Homo sapiens: one gene and its partners. The protein of the gene in region 5 interacts with the protein of the main gene of each other region in a pairwise test. Each region holds a gene or a part of one and is shown on either strand. Other genes may lie near its edges.

Region 1 (4,443 bases), on a different chromosome or scaffold from region 5:
CTTTTCCGTTCTTTAGAACAGCAGAAGAACTGGCCTTACCTTCACAATATCCAATCCTCCCACCAGCTCCCCTTTCACATACAGCTGAGGGTATGTTGGCCAATTTGAGTAAGCTTTTAATCCTTGCCGAACCTAAAGAAACAACAGGAATCCTGAAACCATCCTATCAGGCCCTTAAGATTAAAGCTAAGACAAGGGTGAAACATCAAACACAGAACTTACTTCTTCATCCTCCAATATATCGAATGTTTCATATTCAACACTGCAAAAAAGAGAAGACATTTTAACTGGAAATACAGTTAAATCAAAGTGTAAAACCTCTATGCATTTGATGTTTTTAAAATAATCAAGAAAACCGTTTCACTGCTAACAAAATGTACTACAGACCAATGGAAATGATTTTACTTCTTAATCTGTCTGGTACTACACAGAATTAGTCATTCCAACATATGACTTTATCTGGATTTTTCTCCGGACAATATTGGGTTAGACCAGGGGTGGGCAAACTTCTTCTTAAAGAGTCAGACACTAAACACTTCAGGCTTTACAGGCCAGACAGTCTCTGCTGCAACTGCTCAGTTCTGCTCTCTGCTGCAACTGTCAGCATAAAAGCAGCCACAGACAATGTATAAATGAAGGGATGTGGCTATGTGCCAATATAACTTTATTTACAAAAATGGGCAGCCAGCTGCAACTTGCCAACCCCTGGATCAGACCCACACCCCCATCTGCACGAGCCTTCATTAACTGAACACTCTTACCCACTTCTAATGTCTAACCCACCCCAGGCTGCTGCTTCTTAACCTCCTGGAAGCTGCCCGTGCAGCAGGATGTAGTAGTGCTCGTGGACGGAGGCTGGAGGGCTCAGCAGCCGGATAACAACCACGCTGCCAGCTCCCTCCACCTTAGCAAGAGACATGCTTTCCACACTTAAACTTATTTCAGAGAGGGTGCTGTTTTTAATGTACAAAAGGCCAATGAAAGCTTTGTGGCTTTATACCATACAATGAACATTACTTGTACAAAAAATGAAAAATCACTGCATGAATATCCAACTGTATCCACTCAGAGCGATTTCACCGTTAGGTGGTCAGGTATTAGCAAGCATGTATGCCTAAATCCTTGCAGGGTGCCTGAGGGTACAGGTGCAATTCCCAAAGGTGGCCAAAGAAAATGCTACATGTAAAAAAAACTGGACTTTCCATAAAACTGAAACCATCATAGGGAAATCTTGTTTATTTAGTAAACAAGTTCCCAAGGAAACTGTCTATGGTACAGGGAACAGTCAAAAAAACTAAATGACGGGATAAATCAGAAGCAATTACCAAAAAAGGAATGTTTGAAAGAAGAACAAAAAAAGACCCCAATGTAAACCTAATGCTTTTTAAAAACCCCAATGTAAGTCTTTGTTCAAGTTGAACTAAAGGTGGCAGATCTCTTAATACTGTGATAAAAACAATGAGTTATACAACTATTCATAAAGGATCCAGGAAGCACTGGGCCCAAGTGTATGTATGTGGAGTCCTAACAGCCAGTATACTTCCTAAAAGTTATTCATAAAGGGTACCTTTCAAACCTCAATATACACTTGGTTCTCAACCACTCATGCATGTGTATTTTGGCTACTAAAGGAAAAGATAAGAAATGAGAAAAAGTAAAAAGGAGTTTTCTCCACATACATTTGGCGCCCAGCAAGAGCATGGTCTGCTCGTGTTAAGCGAAGCTGAGGTCCTGGATGGCCTCACTCATCCTAGGGCCAATCACGCTTAGCAAGTCCAGAGCTGGGAGGTCATGCTCTCCCAAAGCATCCTCCTGCTCTCTGCGACAACAGGGTGCTTTCAATACAATGGAGATTAGACAGATATGGGACAGAAAGCCAAGTTACCAAGATGTTCCACCAAAGACACGAGCTGAGTCAGGCCCAGTGTGTCGGCTCAGAAGACACCTGAGGAACCTGGTACTGCTAGAGAGGGATGGACTGTGTGTGTCTCACTGTGGACCCGCAGCAGAGGGTCGACAAAGAAAGGGGAAAATCAAAAATGACCAAAAACAAGCCAGCCCCCACTGTATGGCCCAGGGCAGGGGTGAAGAAAGGAACAGGCTTGAAGTTACAATTACAATAAACTGACTATACTTGCTTCTATAAAATGTCATAGTAATCTAAAGACGACAACCACATCTTTTTTTTGAGACAGAGTCTCACTGTCACCCAGGTTGGAGTGCAGTGGCGTGGTTTCAGCTCACTGAAACCTCCACCTCCTGGGCTCAAGTGATTCTCCAGGCCTCAGCCTCCTGAGTGGCTGGGATTATAGGCGTGCGCCACCGCACCCGGCTAATTTTTGTATTTTTAGTAGAGGCGGGGTTTCACCATGTTCGCCAAGCTGGTCTCGAACTCCTGACCTCAAGTGATCCACTCACCTCAGCCTCCCAAAGTGCTGGGATTACAGGTGTGAGCCACTGTGCCTGGCCCTATATTCTTTTTATGTCCCTGAAATTGTATTCAACCTGTACTATTTAACTATTTTCAATAGATCTTTGAAGTATATCAAAGATTACTTGAAAGTAATTTATTTGAAGCTACAGTTAGAATACATGATTTTTAAAAGATACAATCATGAAATGAGAAATAAACAAAAATATCTGACAAACCCTATAGAACATGTGCTGTATATCTCCAAATAAGTGCTTTTGTTTTTAACCACAAAAATCAATGGCAATGTTCTTACCTGACAGCTTCACCACTGAGCACATCAAAACTAGGAGCACTGCAATTTAACTTGTGCTACCTCTCAGATCCAGGTAATGGACCTTAATATGTGCCCCTCAGCTTTCTGTACTGTTTAGCAACTAGGATATTTGAGAAAAATTAAAAACTACCTATAATATATTCCCCTGAAATATCTTTATGCATGGTGAGGACTCAGTTATACATTTTCCTCTGGGAAAGTAGACAAATAGTTATTCCAAAGGTGGCCTAAAGACCTCCTTTATGTTACTAATAGGTTGACACTGGCCAGAAAATACTATTTTGATCTAAGTTAAGGCATTCACAAAACAATACAGCAAAAAATAAAGAAAGATACAGATATGTATGGATATAGACATTACAACTGAAAAGTATCAGTGGCAGAACTGAAAAGTTGAAATATTTTTTTCTTTTTTTTGAGACAGGGTCTTGCTCTGTCACCCAGGCTGAGTGCAGTGGTGCAATCACGGCTCACTACAGCCTCACCTTCCAAGACTCCAGTGATCCTCCCACCTCAGTCTCTCAAGTAGCTAGGACCATAGATGTATGTGACCATGCCTGGCTAATTTTTTTATTTTTTGTGGCGATGGGGTCTCACTATGTTGTCCAGGCTGGTCTCGAACACCTGGGCTCAAGCAATATTCCTGTCTTAGCCTCCCAAAGTGCTAGGATTATAGACGTGAGCCACTACGCCTGGCCAGGTTGGAATTTTTTTAATACACCATTTGAAAACAACATTTACATACCCAGTACTATTTAGTATTTCCAGAATTTGTTTGCTGAATCCACATTTTGCTTCCTAAATGAAAAAAAATTTGCAAAGATTACAATTTTTGTATGACCCAAGCAGCATGGTTGTACCTAATACTCTTGTCAACCAGCACAGCACTTGTCCAGCATAGCTGCCACTACTTTCACTCAGCTCCCAGAGCTTCTGCTCATCCCCTCTTCAAGTACGAACCCATCTACACATCAACCCAGGCACACGTGACCCACAGACTTCCTTTTCCTTTGGTTTGTAACCACTTGAGATGACATGTGTTCCAACAGTTTATATTCTCTGTGGTCAAAAAGTTCCTCTAAGTGAAACCGAGATTTTCTACAGAGATTTGAGTTCATTGTTTAATTCACTCATGCAAAATGATCTTAACTCACTTAGCCTTTTTGCAATGATTATGACAATTATTTTCCCATTTCCAACTGGATTCTGACTCCCATTTTTCTTTTTATTTTATTTATTTATTTATTTATTTATTTATTTTTTGAGACAGAGTCTCACTCTGTCCCCAGGCTGGAGTGTGATCTCGGCTCACTGCAATGTCCACCTCCCAGGTTCAAGCGATTCTCCTGCCTCAGCCTCCCGAGTAGCTGGGACTATAGGCATGCGCCACCACGCCCAGCAAACTTTTTGTATTTTTAGTAAAGATGGGGTTTCACCATGTTAGCCAGGATGGTCTCGATCTCTTGACCTCGGACCTGCCTTGGCCTCCCAAAGTGCTGGGATTACAGGCATGAGCTACCGCATCCAGCCTCATTTATTTTTACATTACAGAATACTAACACTTTTTTGAGTTTATGAAAATCTTAAGCTTTTTTCATGCCACAGGACTCCAAATTCCAGCAATCTTGTGGAAAAGATATGGTACCATGTCAACATTTTAATAGCCCCAATAACATTGTTTCCAAAATGTATTAAT
Region 2 (4,443 bases), on a different chromosome or scaffold from region 5:
ATCACCAGAGCACAGTGCTGAGAATTCTGAGAGCACCTCTAGGTTTATCAGGACAGAGGGGCACGATCCATTAGCAGTGTCTGCCATCAGCACTGGTTGGGGGAAAGCACATCAACCTTGGAAGGATAAACTTGAAGATTCCTTCCAGCCTCCTTGGATCATTGATTCTGTTGTAGTTGTATGTGCATTTTGGATTGTGCAGGTGTTTGATCTTTTGCTGGACCAGCATCACACAAGCCTTGATAATATAACAGCCTTGTGCCTGTGTGTGGGTTTCTTTTTTTTTTTTTTTGTACTGCAGGAAGATTGTTGATCGAATCGACAATGATGGGGATGGCTTTGTCACTACTGAGGAGCTGAAAACCTGGATCAAACGGGTGCAGAAAAGATACATCTTTGATAATGTCGCCAAAGTCTGGAAGGATTATGATAGGGACAAGGATGATAAAATTTCCTGGGAAGAATACAAACAAGCCACCTATGGTTACTACCTAGGTAAGAGGTGCTGCAGGAGCGATGACACAGTGGGGGCCCAGATCACAAGCTTTTTGTAGACTCTCTCTTCTCTTATCATATCCACTCCCTTCAGGGAGATGTCACAGCCTCCTAAGTAGAACCTGCTTGTATAACACCCTCCTCTGTAAACTCAGAATGTACTGAGTTGCTTACACTGAATGAAGTTACAGGTGGGAGGGAAGGGCTGTGAGGGCTAATAAAAAAAATCCCTTAGATTGAGACCCCATCTCAACTTCGTCTCAGATGCACACACGGAGAAGAAAGCAGAAAGGAAGTGTGTCTGTGGTATATTTTCAAAATGCTGCCTAATTCTGGATAGCAAGGATTGAGTGGGCCGGAGCAGTCAGGGAAGGCTTCCTGGTGTGGGTGGTTTGGAAACTGGAGCCTTGGAGAATGGATTTATATTTGGAGAAGGTGGGTCAACTGGAGGGGCAAAGATGCAGCAATGCATGCAGTAATGGGAAGGGTTTAGATCCAAGACAAACAAGATCGGGAGAAGGAAGGAGAAATGAGATTACAGAGGCACGGGGTGCAGACCTGCTGGGTGCATGGTGAGGTTGGCAAAGAAACAGGCCCAAGGAGAACCAAAGATGCACTCACGCGGCCAGAATCGGGGAGATCTTGAAAGCCAGGCACGGCGTTGAGACAAGATGTTTTGGGTACCAAAGAGCCTCTGTATGTTCCAGATCTAAGAATGAGATGATGAAAGTAGAGTTCTGCAAAGAGAAGTATGGCAGTAATATAGTCTAAAGCCTGCGCTCTTAACCACTTGCAGTAATTCCCCTAATATGCCATGAGGCCTAGATTATGGGGTGGCTTGAAGGGACTGATATTAGAGGCATTCTGACATAGAATGTTTTAAAGAACTCAGTAGGTCGGGACCTTTTTTCCCTATATGTACCATTTGAGCATGCAGGATGAGTGATCTGGCAGGAAACGCCTTTCTTGACCGCACGGTTTAAAAACATTTCTGCATACATACATCCTGCAGGAAACCCCGCAGAGTTTCATGATTCTTCAGATCATCACACCTTTAAAAAGATGCTGCCACGTGATGAGAGAAGATTCAAAGCTGCAGACCTCAATGGTGACCTGACAGCTACTCGGGAGGAGTTCACTGCCTTTCTGCATCCTGAAGAGTTTGAACATATGAAGGAAATTGTGGTTTTGGTAAGATAAGTGAAGAGTCTGGGCTGGGAAGAGACCAGGGAGAAAACTGCCTCCAAATCTTGTCTCTTCCAAAGAGAGAAGATTTTTCAGCCTGAAGGGAATTGGAGAAGGACTCTGAAGTAGAGTTTGTTGGAATCCCCGTCTACCCAGAAAATTAGTCAGGTCAGGCTGGCTGCTGTAACAGATAGCCCCCAGTTGTAGCCATTTAACACTAGCAAAGCTTGTTCCAGCCAGATGGACCTCCTGGGCTGTTCTCTGAGCACAGTTGGGTACCCAGTTCTCCTCTAAGCACTCCTGCTTGTGCTCTGCCATCTTGTAGCTTCAAAGTCATCCTGGCAACACCCAGCTGGCTGACAAAGGAAAAGAGAGGGAATGAGAAGATACAGTCTTTGTTTACTCTTCCGGCCAGGGAATGACACATCCCCTTCACGTATGTTCCACTGGTCCCTCCTAGATATGAAGAGGCTGGGAAATACAGTTTAGATACGTGCCTAGAAAGAGTAAATGGGGCCCAGGCACAGTGGCTCACGCCTGTAATCCCAGCACTTTGGGAGGCCGAGGCAGGCGGATCATGAGGTCAGGAGTTTGAAACCAGCCTGGCCAATATGTTGAAATGCTGTCTCTACTAAAGATACAAAAAAAATTAGCCAGGCATGGTGGCATGTGCCTGTAATCCCAGCTACTTGGGAGGCTGAGGCAGGAGAATCGCTTAAACCCAGGAGGCGGAGGTTGCAGTGAGCCGAGATCGTGCCATTGCACTCCAGCCTGGGCGACAGGGTGAGACTCCTTCTCAAAAAAAAAAAAAAGAAAGAGCAAATGGCTTAAGTGAGCAACTAGCTAGTCTCTGCCCCATTTTTCAATTTTAAGGGACTTGGAAAAAGACTCAGAAATGGAATGAATTGGATTGTTAAAACTGTATGGAAATGTAAAGTAAAAATTATGGCTGGAAGAGATGCTACCCTTAGCGGGTGGGTCTTTGGAGGGTGGGTGGATCAGGCCCTAGGCTTTGAGGAATGACTATGCTTGTAAGGCCTCAGAATGTAGTTGCTTTCCGTAGTGTCTTGTTGGGTCCCAAATGTCTTCATTTTCCATGACAATTAAATAAATGCCATCACCTGTTTTCCTGGGCAGATGCACCAACCCAGTTCCAACTGTTTCAATCCTGGGAAACAGATGGCTAGAGCTTTTGTTTACACGAGCTGTGGATGGTTTTAGTTATCCAGGTGGTGGAAGGGTCCACTCATGCTTCATCCTCCTGACTGCCATGACTGTAAGGACTGGGCAGTGGCTCCAAGAATCATTTCTCTTTACCACTCAACATTCATGTAGTGTTAGCTAATGTGGCAGAGGACAGTGCAGGTGGTGAATGATCCCGAGTAGACTACGAGCCTTTGGGAGTGGCTCTCTGCTCTCAGGTTGGCTCTTTGGTTTGACCCAGGATGCCTCTGAGTTGCTGTGCCAATGAACAGTAAACTCATTTAATTATTGACCCAATCAAAAAATACTGAATAAGAGGTCAAGTATACTAAATACAGAGCACAATACATCAAAAAGTCAGATATACTTTTATTTTTTAGTTGCCCACTGTTTCACATTTCTCTTGACACCAACTCAGTATTCATAGTCCTGTTAGCACTAGAGTCTATTCTTGTGGTCATCTAATCCAGTGGTTCTCACACTGGGTTTCTCGCATGTTCCCCAGTGGGTGTTTTGGCTGGATGGTGGAGTTAGTTGGCCTGGCAGGGCCTCCTGATATCGTCAGAGCACCTCTGGGGTTACAGGTACATCTTGCTTGCTTTGAAGAAAGCATTCTGCTCTGGAAACTGGGGTGGGGGATTAGGAACAGAAACTATTGCCTGTTTTTTACAGATAAAAAACTAGTTCCCAGGGAAGTAAGGCGATGAGCCAGAAGTCACCAAGCATTCAGCCGTAAAAGCTGGACAAATGAGGACAATAGAATTCTCAGACTTCTTAGAGCACATGGCCATCTTGCATTCTGTTTTACCTTTTGCTTCCTAGGAAACCCTGGAGGACATCGACAAGAACGGGGATGGGTTTGTGGATCAGGATGAGTATATTGGTGAGTACTGACCTAGAGTCTTGCTCAGCTGTCCTGACTGGGCCACATGACCCCACCCACACGTCTGGCTACTTTCCCCAGACGTCTCTTTTAGCAACAGCTGCAAGTCTATACGTCACTCCTGGGAGCTTCCAGCCTGCTTGTCCCATCAGCCCTAGTGATGTAGTATCAGGGAAGTATTATTAGGCCTCATTCAGTGGAGAAGAGATGAAAAGGCTGGCCCTACACAAGGCTGGCCAACAGTTGGCCCCATGACTCTGAGAGGTGCCCTTCATCACACTGCCTAGTTTTACCTTTGCAAAAGGACATTGGAGATCCCATAGATTTACAGTGAAGATAGAGGAGACAGTGTCAGGGCAAAGCCTCTAAAACTGGACTGGGTCAATGGAGCCTAGAAACTCTGAGTAGATGCAGCTGTGATTAACAGAACTGTTTATGTGTCTGAGCACTTTGCAGAAAGGCATTCTTCTTAGAAAGATAAATGCTTTACAGAGTGCACAATTGCCCAATAATATGCTCATTTTGTGCCCCTCGTTTCCCATCCTTTGGATGGGAGTCCTATAGTGTCAAATTAATGTATTTGGGTCTGAACCCACCATTGCTGGTTAGAGCCCTTCCTGGTAGCCCCAAATCCCCCCCAGCCCAACCCCCCGCTAGAAAGGACTAGAGCAGGCAAC
Region 3 (4,443 bases), on a different chromosome or scaffold from region 5:
TCAAAAGAGACAAAGAAGGCCATTACATAATGGTAAGGGCATCAATTCAACAAGAAGAGCTAACTCTCCTAAATATATATGCACCCAATACAGGAGTACCCAGATTCATAAAACAAGTCCTTAGAGATCTACAAAGAGACTTAGACTCCCACACAATAATAATGGGAGACTTTAACACCCCACTGTCAACATTAGACAGATCAACGAGACAAAAAGTTAACAAGGATATCCAGGAATTGAACTCAGCTCTGCACCAAGCAGACCTAATAGACATCTACAGAACTCTCCACCCCAAATCAACAGAATATACATTCTTCTCAGCACCACACCTATTCCAAAATTGACCACATAGTAAAGCACTCCTCAGCAAATGTAAAAGAACAGAAATTATAACAAACTGTCTCTCAGACCACAGTGAAATCAAACTAGAACTCAGGATTAAGAAACTCACTCAAAACCGCTCAACTACATGGAAACTGAACAACCTGCTCCTGAATGACTACTGGGTACATAACGAAATGAAGGCAGAAATAAAGATGTTCTTTGAAACCAATGAGAACAAAGACACAACATACCAGAATCTCTGGGACACATTCAAAGCAGTGTGTAGAGGGAAATTTATAGCACTAAATGCCCACAAGAGAAAGCAGGAAAGATCTTAAATTGACACCCTAACATCACAATTAAAAGAACTAGAGAAGCAAGAGCAAATACATTCAAAAGGTAGCAGAATGCAAGAAATAACTAAGATCAGAGCAGAACTGAAGGAAATAGAGACACAAAAAACCCTTCAAAAAATCAATGAATCCAGGAGCTGGTTTTTTGAAAAGAACAACAAAATTGATAGACCACTAGCAAGACTAATAAAGAAGAAAAGAGAGAAGAATCAAATAGACACAATAAAAAATGATAAAGGGGATATCACCACTGATCCCACAGAAATACAAACTACCATCAGAGAATACTATAAACACCTCTACGCAAATAAACTAGAAAATCTAGAAGAAATGGACAAATTCCTCGACACATACACCCTCCCATGTCTAAAATGATTTTCTGATTTTGTAAAAATCAAAATAAACAAAGTAAGTATTCAGTCAATGAAAGAGTGGAAAGGATCTAAAATATTCCTTAAATCCTGAAAGTAGGAAAAAGAAGGAAATAAAAGTGAAAATTAAGAAGAAACAGAAATAAACTGCAGAAGGGATAAACAAACCAAAAACACGTTCTTTGAAACGACCAAATGTAAATTAGTACAGCCATTATAGAAAAACAGTAGAAAAGTTCCTAAAAAAATTAAAAATAGAACTACTATATAATCCAGCAATGCCACTGCTGGGTATGTATCCAAAAGAAAGGATATCAATATACCGAGGAAATATCTATGCTCTCATGTTTATCACAGCATTATTCACAATAACCAAAATATGAAATCAACCTAAATGCCCATCAGTGGATTAATGTATAAAGGAAATGTGGCATATATACACGATGTTATATTATTCAGCCATAAAAAAATGAAATCCTGTCATCTGCAGAAACATGGATGGAACTGGAGGATATTATGTTAAGTGAAATAAGATTATTTTCCCTCATACATGGGAGCTGAAAGGTGGATTTCATAAAGATAGAGAGTAGAATGGTGATTATCAGTGGCTCAGAAAGAAAGGCTCAGGTCAATGGAGAGGGGCTGGTTAATAGGTACAAAAACACAGTTAGAAGGAATAAGATTTAGTTTGTGATAGGACAGTAGGGAAATTAGAGTTAATAATAATTTATTGTATATCTCAAAATAGCTAAAAAAAATATTTGGAATGTTCCCAACACAAAGAAAAGATGAGCATTTGAGGTGATGAATATCGCAATTACCCTGATTTGATCATTACACATTGTATACAGGTATCAAAATATCACATGTACCTTAAAAATATGTATAATGATTATATATACATAAAAAAGATCAATACTCCCTGATAAGCCTGATTAAAAGATTAAAGTGAGAAAATAAAAATATATGAAATATTATGAACCCAAAAGAAGAGAGATAACTACAATTATGGAAGATATGATAATTAGAAAATATTATGTGTAGATATATAGCATTAAATTAAAAATCCAGAGGAAATGAACAATTTCCCAGAAAAATAGAAATTATCAAAAGTAATGTACAAAGAGGCAGAAATGTACAGAATCTAAAGAAAACTCTACCATTTTCCTGAAGCATACAGAACAAGATTTTGATGAAAGGAGAGCAGAGCCTTGTCTTAAATGTGAAAACTTAATAACAATGCCAAGCCGTTACATATTAAAAAATTTAATATAATGCCAATCAGAATCCAAATGGGCTTTCTATGCCAGTTTTTACGGCAGTGTTTTTAAACCTAGAATAAATAAATTTGATATTCATATCAAAGAATAAACATCTAAGAACTGCTAAGAAGCAATGATAAGAGTGAATAAGAATTGATTGTACCAGGCATTAAATCTTTCTCAAAATCTACTGTAATTGAAACAGCATAGTCTTGATACAAGAAATGACAAACAGAAGAGTGGAACAGAATAGAAAGTTTAAAAACACATCTAAGTATATATGCAGAGTTACTATATATGAAAAATGGCATTTAAACTGTGTGGAAAATAAATGATTTATTTAATAAATGATGCAGATGCAACTGACTATCCACCTTGAAGAAAAAAATGAGGTCCCCTTTCTCACATCATATAAAAATGTAAATTCCGGATGGATTACTGTTCTAAAAATAAACCAAAAATATATTTTTAATCAGGAAATTTTATAGTTTGGATGGCAAGAGATCTTAAGCAAGATGAAACTAGGGGCCAAAAAAGGAATAATAGATACATTTTTCAAAGTAAAAATTTAAATATTTATAGAAGTAGGCAATATAAACAAACTCAAAAGACAAAAAACAGACTGGTGAAAACGTGAAATTCGTGACTGACAAAGTGTCACATCAACAATATAGAGTCCTTCCAAATTTATGTTAAAAGAATGAGTAAAGGGTATGAGGCAATTCACAAAAGAAATGAAAATAGCCATTAAGCATATGAAAAAAAAAAGGTTCCAACACTTTTTTTCAATTTACTAGTTGAGAAATGGCAAACTGAAACAAATAGATACTATCCAGTGCTGGTGAGGCTATGCGGAAGTGGGTACTCATAAAATTATGCTAGGAGTATAGATTCTACAAATCTTTCAGAATTTAATATGCAAGTATGTATTAAAACTGTTCACATCCTAACATTCAGTCATTCCACTTTAGGGTACAGATCCTACAGGAATAAAAGCATCAGTAAGTAACAATCAGATACGTACATGGATATTTATTGCAGCAATATCTGTAGTGGGAAATAAAGCTAAATATAAAATGAATGTCTAGCAAAAAACGAACAGTCAGCCCTCTGTAACCATGGGTTCCACATCTGGATTCAATCAACTGTGGATCAAAAATATGCAGAAAAAAGCGGCTGGTTGCTTCTTTACTGAACACATATGGATTTTTGCCTTGTTTTTATTCCCTAAACAATACAGTATAACAATTATTTACATAGCATTTACATTGTGTTAGGTATTATAAATAATCTAGAAATGATTGAAAGTATATGGAGGATGTACATAGGTTATATGTAAATACTATATCATTTTATATAAGGGATTTGAGCATCCATGGATTTTGATATGCACGGGAGTCCTGGAACCAATATCCCGTGCATACCAAGAGATGACTGTGGTTATTACATAATATTATGGAATGTTATACAGCTGTTTATAAGAAAAGTGTGATGAATTTATTGATGTGCCCATTCGACTAGACTGTAGTCCTCACTAATGTAGGTGTTGCCATGAAGGTATTTTACAGATATAATCAAAGCCCCTGATACGGTTTGGCTCTGTGTCCCCACCCAAATCTCATGTGGAATGGTAATCCCCATGTGTTGGGGGAGGGGCCTAGTGGGAGGTGATTGGATCATGGGGGGAATTTCTCCCATGCTGTTCTCATGATAGTGGGTGAGTTCTCACGAGATCTGATGGTTTAAAAGTATGTGGCACTTCCCTCTTGCTCTCTCTCTCTCCTGCCACTATGTGAAGAAGATGCTTGCTTCCCCTTTGCCTTCTACTATGATTCTAAATTTCCTGAGGCCTCCCAGTGATGCTTCCTGTTAAGCCTGCAGAACTGTGAGTCAATTAAACCTCTTTTCTTCATAAATTACCCAGTCTCAGGTATTTATAGCACTGTGAACATGGGCTAATACAGGCCCTAATCAGTTGACTTTATATAAGGGACAATATCCTAGATAATCTGGATGGACCTGACTGAATCTGTTGCAAGACCTTAAAAGTAGAGCCTAGGTCTCACACAGAAAGGGCAGAAATTCTACCTGTGCACCACAGCTTTAGCCCATGTCTGTGCCACTTCATCCTTC
Region 4 (4,443 bases), on a different chromosome or scaffold from region 5:
ATAGTAAATACATAAACCAGTAACATAGTCGTTTATTATTGTTATCAAGTTTTATGTACCATACATAACTGTATGTGTTAAACTGGCAACACAGCAGGTTTGTTTACACCAGCATCACCACAAACATGTGAGTAATGTATTGACCTTACAACAGCTACAGTGTCACTAGGTGAATCTTGAATTTTTCAGCTCCATTATAATCTTATGGGAGCACTGTCATCTAGGTGGTCCTTCATTGACCCAAACATCATTTTGTAGTGCATGACTGTGTTGGGTTTTTTTTAGGCCATCTAGTCTGTTGAAACTACTCAACTCTGCTATTGTAGCGTGAAGTATGAGTAAGTACAATTATTTATGGACACAGTCATGTTAATTTCATATCATTTTCACGTGTCATGAGGTATTCATTTGATTTTGGGGAGCTCCATTCCCTAAATATCATTAGGTATTCATTTGATTTTAGGGATCTCCGCTCCGTAAGGCACTGTGATGAAGACCACAGCCATTTAAAAATGTGAAAATTATTGTTGGTGCAAGTGTTGTACAGAAATGGGTGGCAGGCTAGATTTGGCCGTGAAGCTGTAGTTTGCCAATTCCTGGTGTAGGTTATTGATTGGAATTTTTAACTCAAAGAACAAGTATCTTTTACTTTTACCAGTATAAGTTCAAATTCTTAGGATATTTTTGCTTATTTATATATCTTTTATTTCTTATGCCTCAGGAGTGCCTGTGAAGAAAACGGGGTATTGCCCTGAGGCTTATATTCTGCCTCAGTTGTCTTTTCTTGAAATATTATAAATCAGAATGTCTGCACAGTCAGTGGAAGAAGATTCAATACTTATCATCCCAACTCCAGATGAAGAGGAAAAAATTCTGAGAGTGAAGTTGGAGGAGGATCCTGATGGCGAAGAGGGATCAAGTATCCCCTGGAACCATCTCCCAGACCCAGAGATTTTCCGACAGCGATTCAGGCAGTTTGGATACCAGGATTCACCTGGGCCCCGTGAGGCTGTGAGCCAGCTCCGAGAACTTTGCCGTCTGTGGCTCAGGCCAGAGACGCACACAAAAGAACAAATCTTGGAGCTGGTAGTGCTGGAGCAGTTTGTTGCCATCCTACCCAAAGAGCTACAGACTTGGGTTCGAGATCATCATCCAGAGAATGGAGAGGAGGCAGTGACAGTGCTGGAGGATTTGGAGAGTGAACTTGATGACCCTGGACAACCGGTGAGCCTGCTTGTGTCATTTCCTGTGTCAGAAGCACTGGCATAGGTAGTAGGCAAAGCTGCTGAATTAATTCCACTCAACTAAGTTAGAATTATGTTTATGCCTTTTCCCCCATTCCCCTACCACTCCTTGTTATCTGTGCCGCTTTGCCATCTAGGCTTCTGCAGTATTTGTTTCATGGGGTTTCTCTTACGTGTTTTTAGTTCTGATTCTCATTACAGTTCCTTCTCTGAATCAAATCTTTCTGTTTCCAGGTTTCTCTCCGTCGACGAAAACGGGAAGTACTAGTAGAAGACATGGTATCTCAAGAAGAAGCTCAGGGATTACCAAGTTCTGAGCTTGATGCTGTGGAGAACCAGCTCAAGTGGGCATCCTGGGAGCTCCATTCCCTAAGGCACTGTGGTGAGGACCAGAACTCTGTGTGGGCTAGAGGGTGAAAGAGAGTATAGGCCTTTTGTTCAGAACTTTGCTTGTTCTCACTGGTGGGGGGATCATATCACTCTTAATCTAATATCTCAGTTTTTTTCTGATTAAGTTGATTTTGCTGGCCTCAGACCTTTTATTCCTAGACATTAACATCTTCAGCCTTTTCTTCCCTTTCAGTCTCCTTCCTAAAAAGAGTTGCCCATGTCAGGCTAGCATTTGCCTTACTTTGAGCCAGCACCCACCCATGGACCAAGTCCCTCTATTTTGCATTCAGTATTACTTGTCATCTGTTTTACATCCTTTTACTTTCAATCTCCTGCCTAATTCCATTGGTACAGTAAGCTTACCTGAAAACCTCTTCTAATCTCTTTGTTGTATATCACTGAAATCTTTCTAAATATTTATTTCTGATTTCCTTCAACGTCTACCTAGAGTCATTTTCTTCTAAGAAGCTTCTTTTGTAGAAATATTTGGAGTAATTTTTTTCCTTTTTCTAAGTATTTATGCAAAAAAAGCCTCCTTAGCTATAACATGCTTTAAATGCAGAAAAATCTTTTTTAAAAGCTCAAAGTTGTATTAATTCACGAGACCAGTCTTTCCCAATATATTAGCCATTAACACCATATACTTATGTGTATCCTTTGATATGGCCCAGTATATTCCTAAAACTGCTAGATTGCTTTCTCATGTTTATGTGAACTAAAATGAAATTTTGTTTGACTCTGCTTTAGTAATCATTCCTTGAAGTAGTTGGAGATGGTGCTGGTATGCCACTGAATGAGGTCTGAGCAGGTTTTCTTCACATCTGAGGGGACAGTGCCAGCCAGTCAACTTTTGGGGTGGGGCTGAAGTCTGCTGAAAATCTGCAGTTTTACATGTTTCATGGGACATTCTTCTGTGCAATAAAGTTTGAGAAGTATCATTCTTGATATATGGGGCTGATATTTTCAACTTCTCATCATCTGAATTTTAGAGTGACTTTTCACCTGCGTTCCTTATTTCAGCTGTCTAGTCTCTTCCACACTTGGGAATTTCTGTTTCCTGTGTGCCGTTTGTCTCCACTTAATCTTCACGCTCCTCTGTTTTTCAAGTCTCCAAGCCTCACTATCCTCCTCTAACCTTTCAGTCTCTCTCTCTTAGCCTTATCTCCTGACTTGATCTTTTTGTTAATTATTTACTGTTTTCCTCTTCGCTGAAGGCAGTTGCTAACCCTATATGAACTGGATCTTTACTCCTTAAGGCATGAAGTTTTAGAAAAGTCTTAAATGACACTTGCTGTTATCTCTGCCTGCGTGTGAGTGATGCTAACCCATGTTGGTAATTCAGGCTTTTCTTTCATTGGACACGTTTCACTGAGGCTTAGAAATAACGATTTTTCTAAGTACCATGACAAATACCACATGGGAGAAGCTGCTTTTATTGGAAAACTTTCATTTATTAGGGGCATACTGAATTTTTATGTCATGTCTTTGGTTAACACAGGAGGCCCCCAGCTTATCTTCAGCCCCTTCTTGTCAAGACTCCTGTGTTCTGCTTTTAGGCTAACATTGGCTGTGACCTGACTTGGCTTGTTCATTTCAGAAATAGCCACTTTCTGACATGTTTTTCTAATTTACATCTTTGTATTTTGATGTAATTTCTCCCTTTCTCAAAGTAAAAGAACATTATAATGATTTCCTAGTGGCCAATTTTATTTTATTTTTATTCTTACAAAGTTTCATCCATACCTAGCCACATCATTTTGACTATCTCCCTAACCATCTTAGAATCTACCATCTTTCTGACCTTTGTTTTCTGACTACCATTTGTAAACCACTTGCCTATGTTTTATTCAGATATCCCTTATATCATGATGTTATACTGTTATTCAGAGTAATTTCATTTTTTCTTTTTTGAGAATAGGCCTTAACACCAGTGTCAGAGTGGTTTATAGATGTGTGCTAGCTATTTTAGTTCATTAAAAAAAAAATTTTTTTTAGGTTTCTTTTCCCTTAATAGATAATGAATGATATTTACATTTTCTGTTTATTTCAGATGATGATGGTAGGACTGAAAATGGAGCACTAGCTCCAAAGCAGGAGCTTCCTTCAGCATTAGAATCCCATGAAGTTCCTGGCACTCTCAATATGGGTGTTCCTCAAATTTTTAAATATGGAGAAACCTGTTTCCCCAAGGGCAGGTTTGAAAGAAAGAGAAATCCCTCTCGAAAGAAACAACATATATGTGATGAATGTGGAAAACACTTCAGTCAGGGCTCAGCCCTTATTCTTCATCAAAGAATTCACAGTGGGGAGAAACCTTATGGATGTGTTGAGTGTGGGAAAGCATTCAGCCGAAGTTCCATTCTTGTGCAACACCAGAGAGTCCACACTGGAGAAAAACCTTACAAATGTCTTGAATGTGGGAAAGCCTTTAGCCAGAATTCGGGGCTTATTAATCATCAGAGAATCCATACTGGGGAGAAACCTTATGAATGCGTTCAGTGTGGGAAATCGTATAGTCAAAGCTCAAATCTTTTTAGACATCAGAGAAGACACAATGCAGAAAAACTTCTGAATGTTGTGAAAGTTTAAGAAATTGAAAAAAAAAAAAGAATCAGCACTCAGGTCTTTTTCTTCAGAAATGAAGACAAAATTTAAAATATGAAATGATGCAGAATAGTTTTTTCCCTATTGACTGTCAGAAAATCCACTGGGAAATGTAAAAATCTTCACTCACCATTATGATATTTATCTTGAAAGAAATGGTGTCATACCTGCCTAGAAACTGAAATTTTAAACTTAATTCAGGTCT
Region 5 (4,443 bases):
TGGAGTGAAGACCATACTTCCTTTTTTTGTTTGATTTTTGGGATAGGATCTCTCCCAGGCTGGAGTGCAGTGGGACAATCATAGTTCACTGCAGCCTCGAACTCCTGGGCTCAAGTTGATCCTCCTGCCTCAGCCTCTGGAGTAGCTGGGACTACAGGTATGCACCACTATGCCTGGATAATTTTTTAAAAAACTTTTTGTAGAGACAGGATCTTGCTCTGTTGTCCAGGCTTGTCTCGAACTTCTGGCCTCAAGTGATCCTCCCACCTTAGCTTCCAAAAGTGCTGGGATTATAGACATGATCCACCACACCCAGGTCTTTCGTTTTTTAGGCAGCCTGTGTTATGCTGTCTCCCTGAGGCTGTAAGTGGGCAGCACCTATTATACATGGATGCTCTGAGGCCAATTCCAAGACTTGTGCCTAGGTTCTAGGGAACAAATGTACTATTACTGGATATTCTGAATACACAAATCTGATCACGTCATACCCTACTTCAAACCATGCAGTGGTTCTTCAGTGCCCCCAGGATAAAATCATGCCTTGTAAGACCTTTCAAGAGACTAGCTTATCTTTCCAGCTCTCAATTTTCCTCTCCAGCCCATCTCTTCATCCCATGTCCCATCACACTCAACCCTATTTACAGTTCCACAGAGGCCCTCTACTCCCTTACCTTCTACCTTTGTACACACTGCTGTCCTTCTGCCTGTTATATTCTTCCAACTCCTACTTCTCCATCAAGATGATGTCTATTCATCCCTCCCATCTCAACTTAAACTCTAAAACATATTCTCTGACTTCTCCCAAGACTGGAACGTACTACACTTAAAAACTGCCAGTTTAGGCTGGGCGCAGTGGCTCATGCCTGTAATCCCAGCACTTTGGGAGGCCGAGGCGGGTGGATCACCTAAGGTCAGGAGTTTGAGACCAGCCTGGCCAACATGATGAAACCCCGTCTCTATCAAAAATACAAAAAATTAGCTGGGTGTGGTGGTGGCCGCCTGTAATCCCAGCTACTCAGGAGTCTGAGACATGAGAATTGCTTGAACCCAGGAGGTAGAGGTTGCAGTGGGCCGAGATTGTGCCACTGCACTCCAGCCTGGGCAACAGAGTGAGACTCCGTCTAAAAAATTAAAAAAAAAAAAAAAATTGCCGGTTGATTAATTGGTCACTTCTCCCATCCTAACCTCACTGTACAGTGCAACTCCAGCACCATATATATAGTTATGAAGGTCCTAATTCTGCCTATAAGCTATTTGAGGCAGAGACTATATTTTGTTTACTATTGTATAACTAGTACCCTGCAGAATGCCCCACACATACTAGGTATGTGGTAACTAGCCGCTGAATGAATTAAATTTTCATACATCTGGCATTTATTTGGGTAACGTGGAGAATTTTAAAGATATTTACCAATACAGGAGAGAAAAGCTCTGAGGTTTCAAATATAAAAAAGAAAAGGCTAGGTGCTGTGGGTTGGCTTGCTCGAATAATAATGTGTACTAGGTAAAAGAAAAACGAGATGGTTTTCCTGAAATGACGATTTCAGGGCAACCCTATGGTTGATGAGAGAAGTATTTCTTGTATAAAAGAATCACAATTAGGCCGGGCGCAGTGGCTCATGCCTGTAATCCCAGCAGTTTGGGAGGCTGAGGCGGGTGGATCACCTGAGGTCAGGAGTTCAAGACCAGCCTAGCCAACATGGTGAAACCCCGTCTCTACTAAAAATACAGCCGGGCGTGGTGGCACCTGCCTGTGGTCCCAGCTACTCAGGAGGCTGAGGCAGAAGAACCGCTTGAATTCGGGAGGTAGAGGTTGCAGTGAGCCGAGATGGTGCCACTGCACTCCAGCCTGGGCAACATAGCAAGACTCCACCTCAAAAAAAAAAAAAATCATAATAAACACAGAGGGAACAAGAGAATTAGGATATCACCATTTTGCAGGCCTTAATGAAAAATAGATCTAGGCTATGATCAGTAATGGTTGCCAAAACCTTTACATAACCTACCAGTCAATCTTAAGATCAACTGATTGTCATGTGCCTCCTGATGAGATGTAATAGGAAGCAAGAGCACCATTTATGAAATATTCTTGCCAAGGGGGAAAAATTGAATCTAATCAAACCTCTAAATGTAACTACCAGTTTTTAGGAAATACAGTGGATAGAGAAATTAATATTAACAAAAGGAGTCAATCAGCCAAAACCAGAATGTGGGAAAATCTTTAGGACAAAAACTCCCAATTCCTGGCCGGGCGCAGTGGCTCACGCCTGTAATCCCAGCACTTTGGGAGGCCGAGGTGGGTGGATCACTTGAGGTCAGGAGTTTGGGACCAGCCTGGCCAACATGGTAAAAGCCCGTCTCTACTAAAAATACAAAAATTAGTGGGGCTTGGTGGCAGGTGCCTGTAATCCCAGCTAATTGGGAGACTTGAGGCAGGAGAATTGCTTGAACCTGGGAGGCAGAGGTTGCAGTGAGCCGAGATCACGCCACTGCACTCTTGACCTGGGCCACAGAGTGAGACTCAGTCTCAAAACAAAAACAAAAACAAAACAAAACAAAAAACCCAGTTCCTTAAATAGATAACCATACTGAAAAAAAAGGACTATTATAAAGAGAATTAAGAGAAGTATTAAACAAATGCAATATACAGACATTGTTTGAATCCTGACTCTAGCAAACCAACCATAAGATATTTTTGAGGGGGAGGAAAAAAAGAACATAGACTATTAGAGAATACAATAAATTATTGTTATCTTTGTTTGAAGTGGTAAAGATATTATAGTTTTTAATATTGTATCTTGTTAGAGGCATATACTGAAATATATACAGAAGAAATGACATGCCTACAATTTGCTTTGAAATACTCCATCATAAACAGCAACAACAACAAAAGGAGGAAAGAGATAAAACAAGAACAGTATAAAGTTAATTGTGTTTTTGTCTTTTGAGACAGGGTCTCACTCTGTCACCCAGGCTGGAGTACAGTGGCACAGTCACTGCTCACTGTAGCCTCAACCTCCCAGGCTTAGGTGATCCTCCTACTTCAGCCTCCCGAGTAGTTGGGACCACAGGCACATGCCACCACGTCCCGCTAATTTTTTTTTGTATTTTTTGTAGAGATAGGGGTCTTATGTTGCCCAGGCTGGTCTTGAACTCCTGGATTCAAGCAATCCACTTGCCTCCACCTCCGAAAGTGCTGGGATTATAGGCATGGGCCACTGAGCATGGCATAAAGTTAACTGTCAAAGTTAGGGCCAAGTGCGGCAGCTCACACCTGTAATCCCAGCACTTTGGGAGGCTGAGGCGGGTGGATCACTTGAGGTCAGGAGTTCCAGACTAGCCTGGCCAACAGGGTAAAACCCTATCTCTAATAAAAATACAAAAATTAGCCGGGTTTGGTAGTGGGTGCCTGCAATCCCAGCTATTCAGGAGACTGAGGCAGGAAAATTGCTTGAACCTGAGAGGCGGAGGTTGCAGTGAGCTGAGATCGCACCACTGCACTCCAGCCTGGGCGACAGTGGGACTCCATCTCAAAAAAAAAAAAAAGTCAAAGTTAGGAGACAGGTGTGAGCTGCCGCTCTCAGCCGTAACTTCGACTTCGACGTGGGTTTATCATACTAGTCTCTCTCTCACTGTACTCTGAAAATTTCCATAATAAAAGCTTTAAAATAGAAAAATGAAGACAAGAAAAATGGAGGAGAAAGAGGAAGGCTCCGTAAGTGAGATATGTATGATTCATTCCAAAGCAGTTACCAGAAAAAGTGACTTAGGAAAGAACCAATGATATCAAGATCAAAAACTTTAAATATAAGCAAAGACAATGGGTCACAACAATAAAAAGAAAAGTCCTGGCAAAAGCATTAACATGTATGCCCAGAACCCTGTAATCCTGGGTACCCCCAAAGATATTAGAGAATAATGGAGAATATTCAATATAGGATGCAGAGTCATTTGAATGATGCAACAGCTTACTGTGGTATAAAGGTTATAATGAAAAGAAGAAGGCTGGGTGCAGTGGCTCACGCCTGTAATTCCAGCACTTTGGGAGGCTGAGGTGGGCAGATCACGAGGTCAAGAGATCGAGACCATCCTGGCCAACATGGTGAAACCCTGTCTCTACTAAAAATACAAAAAAATTAGCTGGGCGTGGTGGCACGCACCTGTAGTAGCAGCTACTCAGGAGGCTGAGGCAGGAGAATCGCTTGAACCTGGGAGGCAGAGGTTGCAGTGAGCCGAGAACGCACCACTGCACTCCAGCCTGGGCAACGGAGCGAGACTCTGTCTCAAAAAAAAAAAGAAAAGAAAAGAGGAGAAAAGACGGAAGAGCACCATAAAAACTAATGTAATACTGAAAGGATCCAAGCTACAGAGGTTTTGACAAAAGTTTATGCATATGAAATGTGCTCGTGATGAAGTCATCCACTCCCATGACACAAGACCAGT
Region 6 (4,443 bases), on a different chromosome or scaffold from region 5:
GACATTATTTAGAAATTGTAGTCTTCTGGAAAAGTCACACATGCCTTTAATCGATCTTGTATTGAACAATCAGAATTTACCTCCTTACATCTCTGGAGTTCAATGAATTCTGTACTGAAGGGGAGAAATGCTGACATTATTGAGTAGACCTCTAAGTAAGCAAGGAAAAGATGGGTACAAATATCTAGTAAGCACACAGACAGACAAACCTTAAGTCGAACATAAAGGTAACTATGTGGGCATGTTGGGTAACTGGCTGAGGAGTCACAAAGAGCTAATAAAAAGGAAAATGAAATTTGTCTACCAAAAAAAAAATCAACCCATCAAAGATGCTGATAAAATCTTATTTCCACAAATTACTGAAAGGTATTGATTAGCCCTGTCTCACCTTTTCCATGGTATACCACCACCACCACCACAAAAAAACCCCACAAAACCCCAAAACCAACTCTTTTACATGCATATTGATCTCCTCATATACTAAAAAGGCTATTATATATGAACATACATATATACATGTATGTATATACATATACTCACATATTTTTACTAAGCTTTGAATTCACATTATCCTTCCCCAACTCTTCTAAACCTTTTTGCTCTGTGAATTTTTTGTTTTAAAGATTTGGCATGCCAAGTGATTCAAGAGAAAGACTGTACTCCTTTGTACAAGATTGTACCCAACTGTACTCCTCCTCAAATTTGCTCAGATGGAAGTTTTGACTTAAATACTCATATGTGTATAGTCTGTGTGTGATGGGGTTGGCAGTGGGGGAAAGAGGTATCATAGATAACTTTGAGAATTAAGAAAACAAACTTTTCTATATAGATATATAAAAAGAGCACCCTGACATGGGAAAATTACCTTTGGTTCTTGGTCTCTGAAAACACACTGTTGTGAAGTAACAGTTGTTGCATCAACAGAGGAACTTATTTTCTCTATGCTCTGGAGGACACTTCCTTTTCTAGCATAAATGACGGCTGTTACTTTTCTGGGGGCATTGTGTCCTGTACTAAATCCAACTGGAAAGATTGGATTTGTGAATAAAGTCTTACTCTGTTTTAAGTAGTTACTGGATTGGTTCATATGTGGATTTGTGGTAGAAGGAGATGGTTTCTCCACTTTATTCTTCTCTGCCCTTAGATTGGCCATGGAAGCAAGCTGGGTATTGGAAAGTGATTTTGTCTCCATCTGGGAAGATTTACTTTTAGCCAAAACAATATTTACAACCTCTCTGGATATTTCTGTGACTGGACTTGAACTCACTGTCTGTAACGTGTCTTTTCTTACTGGAGTATCAGGAGAAACAGAATTCTGTTGGTCAATTTGTGATGGCAGAACATCTGTCCCCTTTTTAGCCAACAGATAGACTTTCCCATTAAACATAACCAAAGCATTATCTTTAATAGGCATATTTTTGGATCGCGTCCCACTAGGATCGATGGTACTCAATGGTGGCATATTTATAGTATTATCTCCCAAATTTTTCCTATCTACAAAAGTTTTTAAAATCTTTGAAGCCACATTATTTGAAGACTTAACAGGAACAAGAGATGGCGTAAAAGGCTGTAGATTATCTTGGAAAATCCATTTCACTGGAGCAGCTTGAGAATGCTGACCACCTTTCAATTGTGTCTCTGTAGCAACATTCTTTGGAATTTGTGTGGTATTTAGTATTACTGGCTTTGCTATTTCTGTAACAGGTTTTGGGTAAATGTTTTGAAAGTTCTTGGTAACTACATTTTTCACTGTATTTACAGGAGATACATAAATAACGGTTGGCATTTGGGAGGCCTCAACCATTCCTGAGGTACTGGTGGTGGCAGTTGCAAGTATCTTTTGCTGCACTGAAGGAGGCAATGATGACGCTGGTACAGATTTCACTTCAGCATGGGCTGGAATCTGTAAATGATGCCCAGAAGGCAAAACTGGAGACTTCACAGTCACTGGAAGACTCTGGGTATTAACTACAATAAAAGATGAGTCTTTTTGTGTTGAGGGAGGAACAGCAAATGTTTGCATGGTGAGTCCATCAATTTTCACACCATGACTCTGAACTTTAGAAACTGATGAAGAAAAATTTCCAGTTCCCACAGAAGTAACTCTACCTTTTTCTGATGTATCTACTGTTCTTGTAAGAAAATAGTTTGAAGAACTGGCTGGCTGAAAAATGGGCAATTGAACTGATGCACTTGTGGAAGAGCTGGAAATCTGAGTCTGAAAAGTAACTTGAACTGGTTTTCCTGTATTCCCTTTCAAAGCATCAGACATGACTGAAGATTGAACTAGTGGTATAAGATTTCCAGAAGACTTAGGAATTGGAAGTAATTGCAGAAGATTTTTTCCATCCGAGCCAATCGTCTGAACTACTTGGTACATGCAGCCTGAAACACTTAAAAGAACATTGAGTAAATAAATACAACATACTACATGGTATATACATTTTATTTAAAAATAAATATTTGTAAATATTTGTAAATATTAAAATAAAGTATATAATTTTCCATTTTGAGTTTTTAAAGTGAAAGACTGCAAAACAAATATTTTGAAGTAGAAGAGATAATGATATAGTCAACTGCTTATATGATTAGGCAATGGGTATGAGATAATAACATTTATTCCTAAGACTAAAAGTAGACATTTCTAAGGTTTTGCCCTATATAAAATTATACTACTAAAGTAAGCTCCTCTTAAAATATTAGCATCCTCCCTTCCCCCTTTCCCTGAATTCCTTCCTCTTGTCCTCCTCCTCTACTCTAACTGAAGATTCTCATTCCCTCTCCCCTTACTCTTATTCCATTTCTCTCTTTTCCCCCTCAATCTGTTCTGTCTTCTTCCTTCAATAACTCACAAGTTCTGCCAGCCATTCTTCTTTTGCCTAAGCTATCTCTCATGGTGTTACCTTAGTTTGCCACATTTTTGTGCTATAGATTTCACTGAACTGTTTACATAGGAATCATTTTCTTCTGATTACTGTTTCAGCACATTTGAGGTTTAGTGCTACATAGTCTCTGGTATAGCAATTATTTATATTAGTCAATTGTCAATCACCTATCAACCCATACATATAATACCACTGCAATTTCAGCTGAATGGTTTTCAATCAATGTGGAACAGACTGGAAATCAATTTTTTTTAACTGAATCAATTCTGACCCCCATGCCTTGAATTATTTCTTAGTATAGACTGTCTAATCTTAAGAAAAATCAATATATACTAATCTCTGTTTGCATAATTAGTTATTTGGAGATTACTTGAATGTAAATACCTTACCTTATTTATATCTAAAACATTTTTCAGCTCCTGGGAAATATTGAGCTTTCATGTCACACATACTATCACTCTACCTAGGTACGCCTCACCCAACTCAACTCTTCACATAGCTCAAGTCTTGGCATAAATGATATTTCTCAAGAGATACATTTTCTGACCACTTTATCCTTGTCTTTCCTTCATAATTAATCCATAACATTATGCTTGTTAGCTTCCTTCATGGTATATATCATAGATTGTCATCATATATTAATATGTTTGTCTATAGACTGTCTCTCATATTATATTCTACCAATATGAGTGCAGCATCCATATACCATAGACCTAGCATGGTCTTAGATAACTAAGATCAAATAAATACAAAAGTTCAAGGGCAAATAATAACGATAATAATTAGGATTCTCAAAAGCATAAAGGTATGTTTTTAAAACTCTCAGGTATTAATAAAAATCAATACCCAAAATTCTATGTATCCGTAGAAATTTGGTTTACCTTTCTGCAGCCCGAATAACATTATTATATCCTTACAAAAATTTAAAAGTCTTTTGGACACGTGAGAGTGGGTCAAAATATTACATTGACATTTTGTTATTGTTGCTGTTGAGACAGGGCCCGGCTCTGTCATCCAGACTGGAGTGTAGGTGTACAATCTTGGCTCACTGCAATCTCCACCTCCTGGGCTCAAGCTATCCTTCTACCTCAGCTTCTCAAGTAGCTGAGACCACAGATGCACGCCACCAAACCCGGCTAATTTTTGTATTTTTTATAGAGGCAAAGTTTTGCTATGTTGTCCAGGCTGGTCACACACTGACTTTTAATAAATTAAAAGTTAACTTCTAAAGAGAATAAACCCAAAGAAAAGGATGAATTCTTGCTTTCAGGGTTTTAAGAGGAAAAATCTACCTTTATTACCTCCCTGCACCACAAGAAAAGCACATTTGACCTGGATAAGAACATATTCAATATTAAGTCATTACACAAAAATTTACCAAGTGTCTGTTTTAAGTTAAGCACCAGGCTCATCAGGAAAAAAGGGTCAGTAAGCTGTAGCCTCTGGGCCTAATCTGGCCCACTCTGTTTCTGTGCATTCTTATATTTTAATTGATTTTTAAAAATCAAAAGAGTAACAGTAGCCTCTGTAGTGGCTCCTCAGTCTTCTTTGCCAACTC
Region 7 (4,443 bases), on a different chromosome or scaffold from region 5:
CAAACCAGCCACATTCCCTTAAACTAAAGCCTAATTAATCCACAGCAAGGCCCAAACGCTCTTCAATTCTATGAAGCCTGAGGGAGGTAAAGAAGCTACAGAAGCAAAGTTTGAAAGTAGCAGAGGTTGGTTTATGGAAAGAAGCTGTCTCCGTAACTTCGAAGTGCAGAGTGAAGCAGCAAGGGCTGAACTAAGAACTGCAGCAAGTTACCCAGAGGCTCTAGCTAAGGTCGTTGATGACGGTGGCTACACTAAACAACAGATTTTCCATGTAGAAAAAAGAGCCTGGTACTGGAAGAAGATGCCACCTGGGACTTTCATAGCTAGAGAGAAATAAATGCCTGCCTTCAAAGCTTCAACAAACAAGCTGGCCCTCATTAGGAGCTAAAGTAGCTGACGACTTTAAGTAGAGGCCAATGTTCATTTACCATTCTGAATAATTCTAGAGTCCTTAAGAATTATGCTAAATTTACTCTGCCTGTGCTCTATAAAAGAAACAAGTATAGATGACAATACATCTATTTACAGCATAGTTTACTGAGTATTTTAAGCCAACTGTTGAGACCTGCAAAATATTACTATTGGCCAGATGTAGTGATTCCCACCTGTAGTCACAGCACTTTGGGAGGCCCAGGTGGGAGGACTGCTTGACCCAAGAGTTCAAGACTAGCCTGGGCAACACAGCAAGAACTCTTCTTTACAAAACATTTAAAAATTAGCCAGGCATGGTGGCACACACCTGCAGTCCTAGCTACTTTGGAAGCTGAAGCAGGAAGATAACTTGTACTCATGAGTTCGAGGTTACAGTGAGCTGTGATTGCATGACTACTCCAGCCTGGGTGACAGAACAAGAGACTGTCTCCAAAATAACAATAATAAAAAATTACTATTGACAACATACCTGGTCACCCAAGAGCTCTGATGAAGATGTACAATGTGACTAGTGTTCATGCCTGCTAACACGTGTTCTGCCACTTATAGATAAAAGAGCAATTTTGACATTCAAGTCTCACTATTTAAGAAATACATTTCGTAAGGCTATATAGCTGCCATAGTCATTCCTGTGATGAATATCGGCAAAGTAACTGAAAACTTTCAGAAAATGATTCACAATTCTAGATGGCATTAAAAACATTCATGATTCATGGGAGGAGATAAAATATCAACATTAACAGGAGTTTGGAAGAAGTTTACTCCAATTCTCATGGCTGACTTTGTGGGGTTCAAGACTTCAGTGGTGAAAATAACTGTAGATCTGCTGCAAATAGCAAGAGAACGAGACACAGAAGTGGAGCCTGAAGATGTGACTGAACTGCTCCAATCTCATAAAACTTGTTGGTGAGGAGTTGCTTCTTATGGATGGGCAAATAAAGTGGTTTCCTGAGATGGAATCTACTCCCAGTGGAGATGAAATGACAACAAAGGATTTACTTGATAAAGCAGTAGCAGGGCTTGAGAAAATTGCTTCTAATTTTGAAAGCAGTTCTGCTGTAGGCAAAATGCTATCAAATGTACTGCATCCTACAGAGAAATCTTTCAAGAAAGAAGTCAACTGATGCAGCAAACTTTATCACTGTGTTAATAAACTGCCATAGCCACATCCTTCAGCAATCACCACCCTAATCAGTCAACAGCCATCAATATCAAGGCAAGACCCTCCACCAGCAAAGACTATGACTAACAGAAGGCTCAGATGATTAGTCTTTTTTAGCAATGAAGCATTTTTAACTAAGATACGTACATTTTTTATATGTAATTTTATATGTAATCCTAATGCTTAGACAACAGTAAAGTGTAATTGTAATACTTAGACAACAGTAAAGTTGTAAACATAACTTTTGTATGTACTAGGAAACAATGTCAAAGTCAAAATGTCATTTTAATTCTCCTATTCATGTATGCCTTCCAAGATAATAAGCTAACTGAAAAACAGTTTATGCAATACTTTCAACTTCATAATGGTAAAATGATTCCTATAGCAATCCCTAAATATTATAAATGTAAACTAAAGTTATTAATAGTCTATTTTAACAGTTATCTCGTGTGTGTGTGTGCACGCGCACGCGCGTGATGGAGTCTCGGTCTGTCGCCCAGTCTGGAGGGCAGTGGTGTGATCTCAGCTCACTGCAACCTCCACCTCCCAGGTTCAAGTGATCCTGCTGCCTCAGCCTCCCAAGTAGCTGGGACTACAGGCACCCACCACCACACCTGGTTAATTTTTTTTTTTTTTTTTTTTTAAGTAGAGATGGGGTTTCACCATGTCAGCCAGGCTGGTCTTGAACTCCTGACCTCAAGTGATTCACCCAGCTCAGCTTCCCAAAGTGCTGAGATTACAGGCGTGAACCACCACACCCGGCCCAACAGTTATCTGCTTCTGCTTAGTAACCAACTATAGTCAGAAGTTTCAAAAATAATGATTGTCTTAAAACACAAATTTTAAACCACTTCATGTTTTCATTCATTACACATGCTTTAATAATGGCTTCCTTAAGAAATATGAAATGGCCAATTCCCGAACTGATACTTTAAATTTATGTTCCATTATCAAAAATGCAGCAACAAATGACACATCAGTATCTGGTCAACCACTGTTAATGTTCAAAGATACACAATAGATGAAAATTACTTGATAGTATCACAGCTGATTCAGAAAACATAAATCTTCACCTCTCAGTCTCAACTTCAAAGTGATGCCACCTACTTGGTACAAAAAAGTCTAAATATCTCAAATCATTTCCACATCTTCTACAAAGGAATAACATAGTTCTAAGTGATAATTTACAAAGAGTTCTGTGGAATAACTTTCAAGTTTATTTCTGTACTTGTAAAGAGTATTTACTTGTTAAAAAACAGCTGAACATAATTGAGGTGATTTCTTCTTTATAATATAAAATCCAGTTATGCAGAAGAACAACAAAAAAAGTTCCTAGAAGGCTTTATTTCAAGACAGTGATTACCTCTGAGAAGAGAGGGAGCAGAAAAAGTTGGAAAAAATAGGACTTTAGCATTTGCTTTAATCTTAGATTTAAGTAAAAACAGGAAGCAATGTGTCTTTTTGATGAAGTGCACTGGCTCTGGAGGCAGATTCTCTGCGTTCCAAACAACTCACTAGCTCTTTGTGACCTTAGGCAAGTTACTTAATCTTCCTGTGCCTCAGTTCTGTATCTATCAAATGTGGATAATACATCCTGCTGTGTAAGATTAAATGAGTTGCTTATGTGAAGTGCCTAGAATAGTACCTGACACATGAATGTTAACATTATTATTATCATCAGCCTCATAATCTATGACTGTCAACTATGAAATGTGGCTGGAAGGCACTGGGGGAAAAGGGGGTTGTGGGGAGTGGCATCTGATCTATTTTCTACAGTTACACTTCAAATATAAATTCTGTTTTTGTAAACAGTGACAAATGACCATCATCATAAGTGAGAAAGTATAAAGCAGAATAAAGTTACAGTCTTCTCTTCAATTTTCAAAAACATGAGACAATACAGGCTTCAGGGTTTGATATTTATTTTTAGCAGGAAGAATATACTAATGGTGACGACATCGTTAGAAGATACGCCCATGTCCAATATCTGCAACAGAAGCTCAATAGAAGTTAAAGAAACCATACTAAAAGACTAAAGACAAAAATTGTATGACATTACTTACCCTTAATTCTGTGGACAATAAAACAATTAACACTATGTTTAAAATTGAGGTTTCATCACAAGGTGAAATAGTGGCAAGTTAATTATCAAATTCATCTTTTAAAAAAAAAAACCATCTTTTCCTTTCCATGTAGAAGTGGGCAACCTCTTCAAAGGTATAGTGGCCACCAACTATCATCATCTGAGGGTATTTATACGAGCAGAGAAGGAGTAAATTGCAAAGGAGTAGTGCTAACTTGAGAGCTGGGAATTTGAGGTGGGAATAATTAAGTAGCAGCTCCCATGGGTAGCAATGGCAATCTAATCTAAGCACCATTTTTGGCACAATTAGAGACTGCTGAATCAATAACTAAACACTAATAAAAATAACTTAATGGGGTAGTACCATGACATTCCTACAAATTTACAGTGAGCTTTCTGTAAATAAAGGGATTCAAATTAGAAATTCTCCTACATATTATTACAATAAGAAATTGCCACAGCAATACAATTTAAACAAGAACTCATCAACTGAAAGATTTTTTTTACATAAAACCAAATCTGGCTCATGTATCCCTAACAATTGCTACTCTAATCAAAGGAAATACGAGCATTTTTTAAAATCACCTCCTGTACTCCCAGATTTCTCATTAGCGGTATTAATTATTACTTAATTTACAGGAGCAATGAATTTCTGCCTAAGAGTGTGAGCCGGGAGTGGGGCTGGAACATGTAAGCATTAGAATTGGCGGGTGGAATTAAGGGAGTAATTTAAAGACTTAATGGTATACCTAAAAGACTACATCTT

Evidence for each region.
Region 1: the proteins of ZNF410 (region 5) and GLRX3 interact in binary tests that used the Homo sapiens proteins (3 or more experiments, as listed by UniProt).
Region 2: the proteins of ZNF410 (region 5) and RCN1 interact in binary tests that used the Homo sapiens proteins (3 or more experiments, as listed by UniProt).
Region 3: the proteins of ZNF410 (region 5) and ARHGEF9 interact in binary tests that used the Homo sapiens proteins (3 or more experiments, as listed by UniProt).
Region 4: the proteins of ZNF410 (region 5) and ZNF24 interact in binary tests that used the Homo sapiens proteins (3 or more experiments, as listed by UniProt).
Region 6: the proteins of ZNF410 (region 5) and LRIF1 interact in binary tests that used the Homo sapiens proteins (3 or more experiments, as listed by UniProt).
Region 7: the proteins of ZNF410 (region 5) and RPRD1A interact in binary tests that used the Homo sapiens proteins (3 or more experiments, as listed by UniProt).

Annotation. Positions count from the first base shown.
Region 1 is NC_000010.11:130,170,686-130,175,128, reverse strand, and holds part of GLRX3 (glutaredoxin-3), read right to left. Parts: intron 3,546-4,443; coding exon 3,493-3,545; intron 263-3,492; coding exon 223-262; intron 133-222; coding exon 40-132; intron 1-39. UniProt on the Homo sapiens protein: Together with BOLA2, acts as a cytosolic iron-sulfur (Fe-S) cluster assembly factor that facilitates [2Fe-2S] cluster insertion into a subset of cytosolic proteins.
Region 2 is NC_000011.10:32,096,843-32,101,285, forward strand, and holds part of RCN1 (reticulocalbin-1 precursor), read left to right. Parts: intron 1-301; coding exon 302-495; intron 496-1,507; coding exon 1,508-1,686; intron 1,687-3,705; coding exon 3,706-3,766; intron 3,767-4,443. UniProt on the Homo sapiens protein: May regulate calcium-dependent activities in the endoplasmic reticulum lumen or post-ER compartment.
Region 3 is NC_000023.11:63,648,838-63,653,280, forward strand, and holds part of ARHGEF9 (rho guanine nucleotide exchange factor 9), read right to left. Parts: intron 1-4,443. UniProt on the Homo sapiens protein: Acts as a guanine nucleotide exchange factor (GEF) for CDC42. Promotes formation of GPHN clusters.
Region 4 is NC_000018.10:35,337,012-35,341,454, reverse strand, and holds part of ZNF24 (zinc finger protein 24), read left to right. Parts: intron 1-721; 5' UTR 722-804; coding exon 805-1,224; intron 1,225-1,478; coding exon 1,479-1,626; intron 1,627-2,381; coding exon of another isoform or gene 2,382-2,395; exon of another isoform or gene 2,396-3,684; coding exon 3,685-4,223; 3' UTR 4,224-4,443. UniProt on the Homo sapiens protein: Transcription factor required for myelination of differentiated oligodendrocytes. Required for the conversion of oligodendrocytes from the premyelinating to the myelinating state.
Region 5 is NC_000014.9:73,924,537-73,928,979, reverse strand, and holds part of ZNF410 (zinc finger protein 410), read right to left. Parts: intron 4,279-4,443; coding exon of another isoform or gene 4,177-4,278; exon of another isoform or gene 4,161-4,176; intron 1,874-4,160; coding exon of another isoform or gene 1,752-1,873; intron 1-1,751. UniProt on the Homo sapiens protein: Transcription factor that binds to the sequence motif 5'-CATCCCATAATA-3', and is specifically required to silence expression of fetal hemoglobin in adult erythroid cells.
Region 6 is NC_000001.11:110,950,423-110,954,865, forward strand, and holds part of LRIF1 (ligand-dependent nuclear receptor-interacting factor 1), read right to left. Parts: intron 2,394-4,443; coding exon 866-2,393; intron 1-865. UniProt on the Homo sapiens protein: Together with SMCHD1, involved in chromosome X inactivation in females by promoting the compaction of heterochromatin.
Region 7 is NC_000018.10:36,022,098-36,026,540, forward strand, and holds part of RPRD1A (regulation of nuclear pre-mRNA domain-containing protein 1A), read right to left. Parts: intron 3,582-4,443; coding exon of another isoform or gene 3,501-3,581; exon of another isoform or gene 2,789-3,500; intron 1-2,788. UniProt on the Homo sapiens protein: Interacts with phosphorylated C-terminal heptapeptide repeat domain (CTD) of the largest RNA polymerase II subunit POLR2A, and participates in dephosphorylation of the CTD by RPAP2.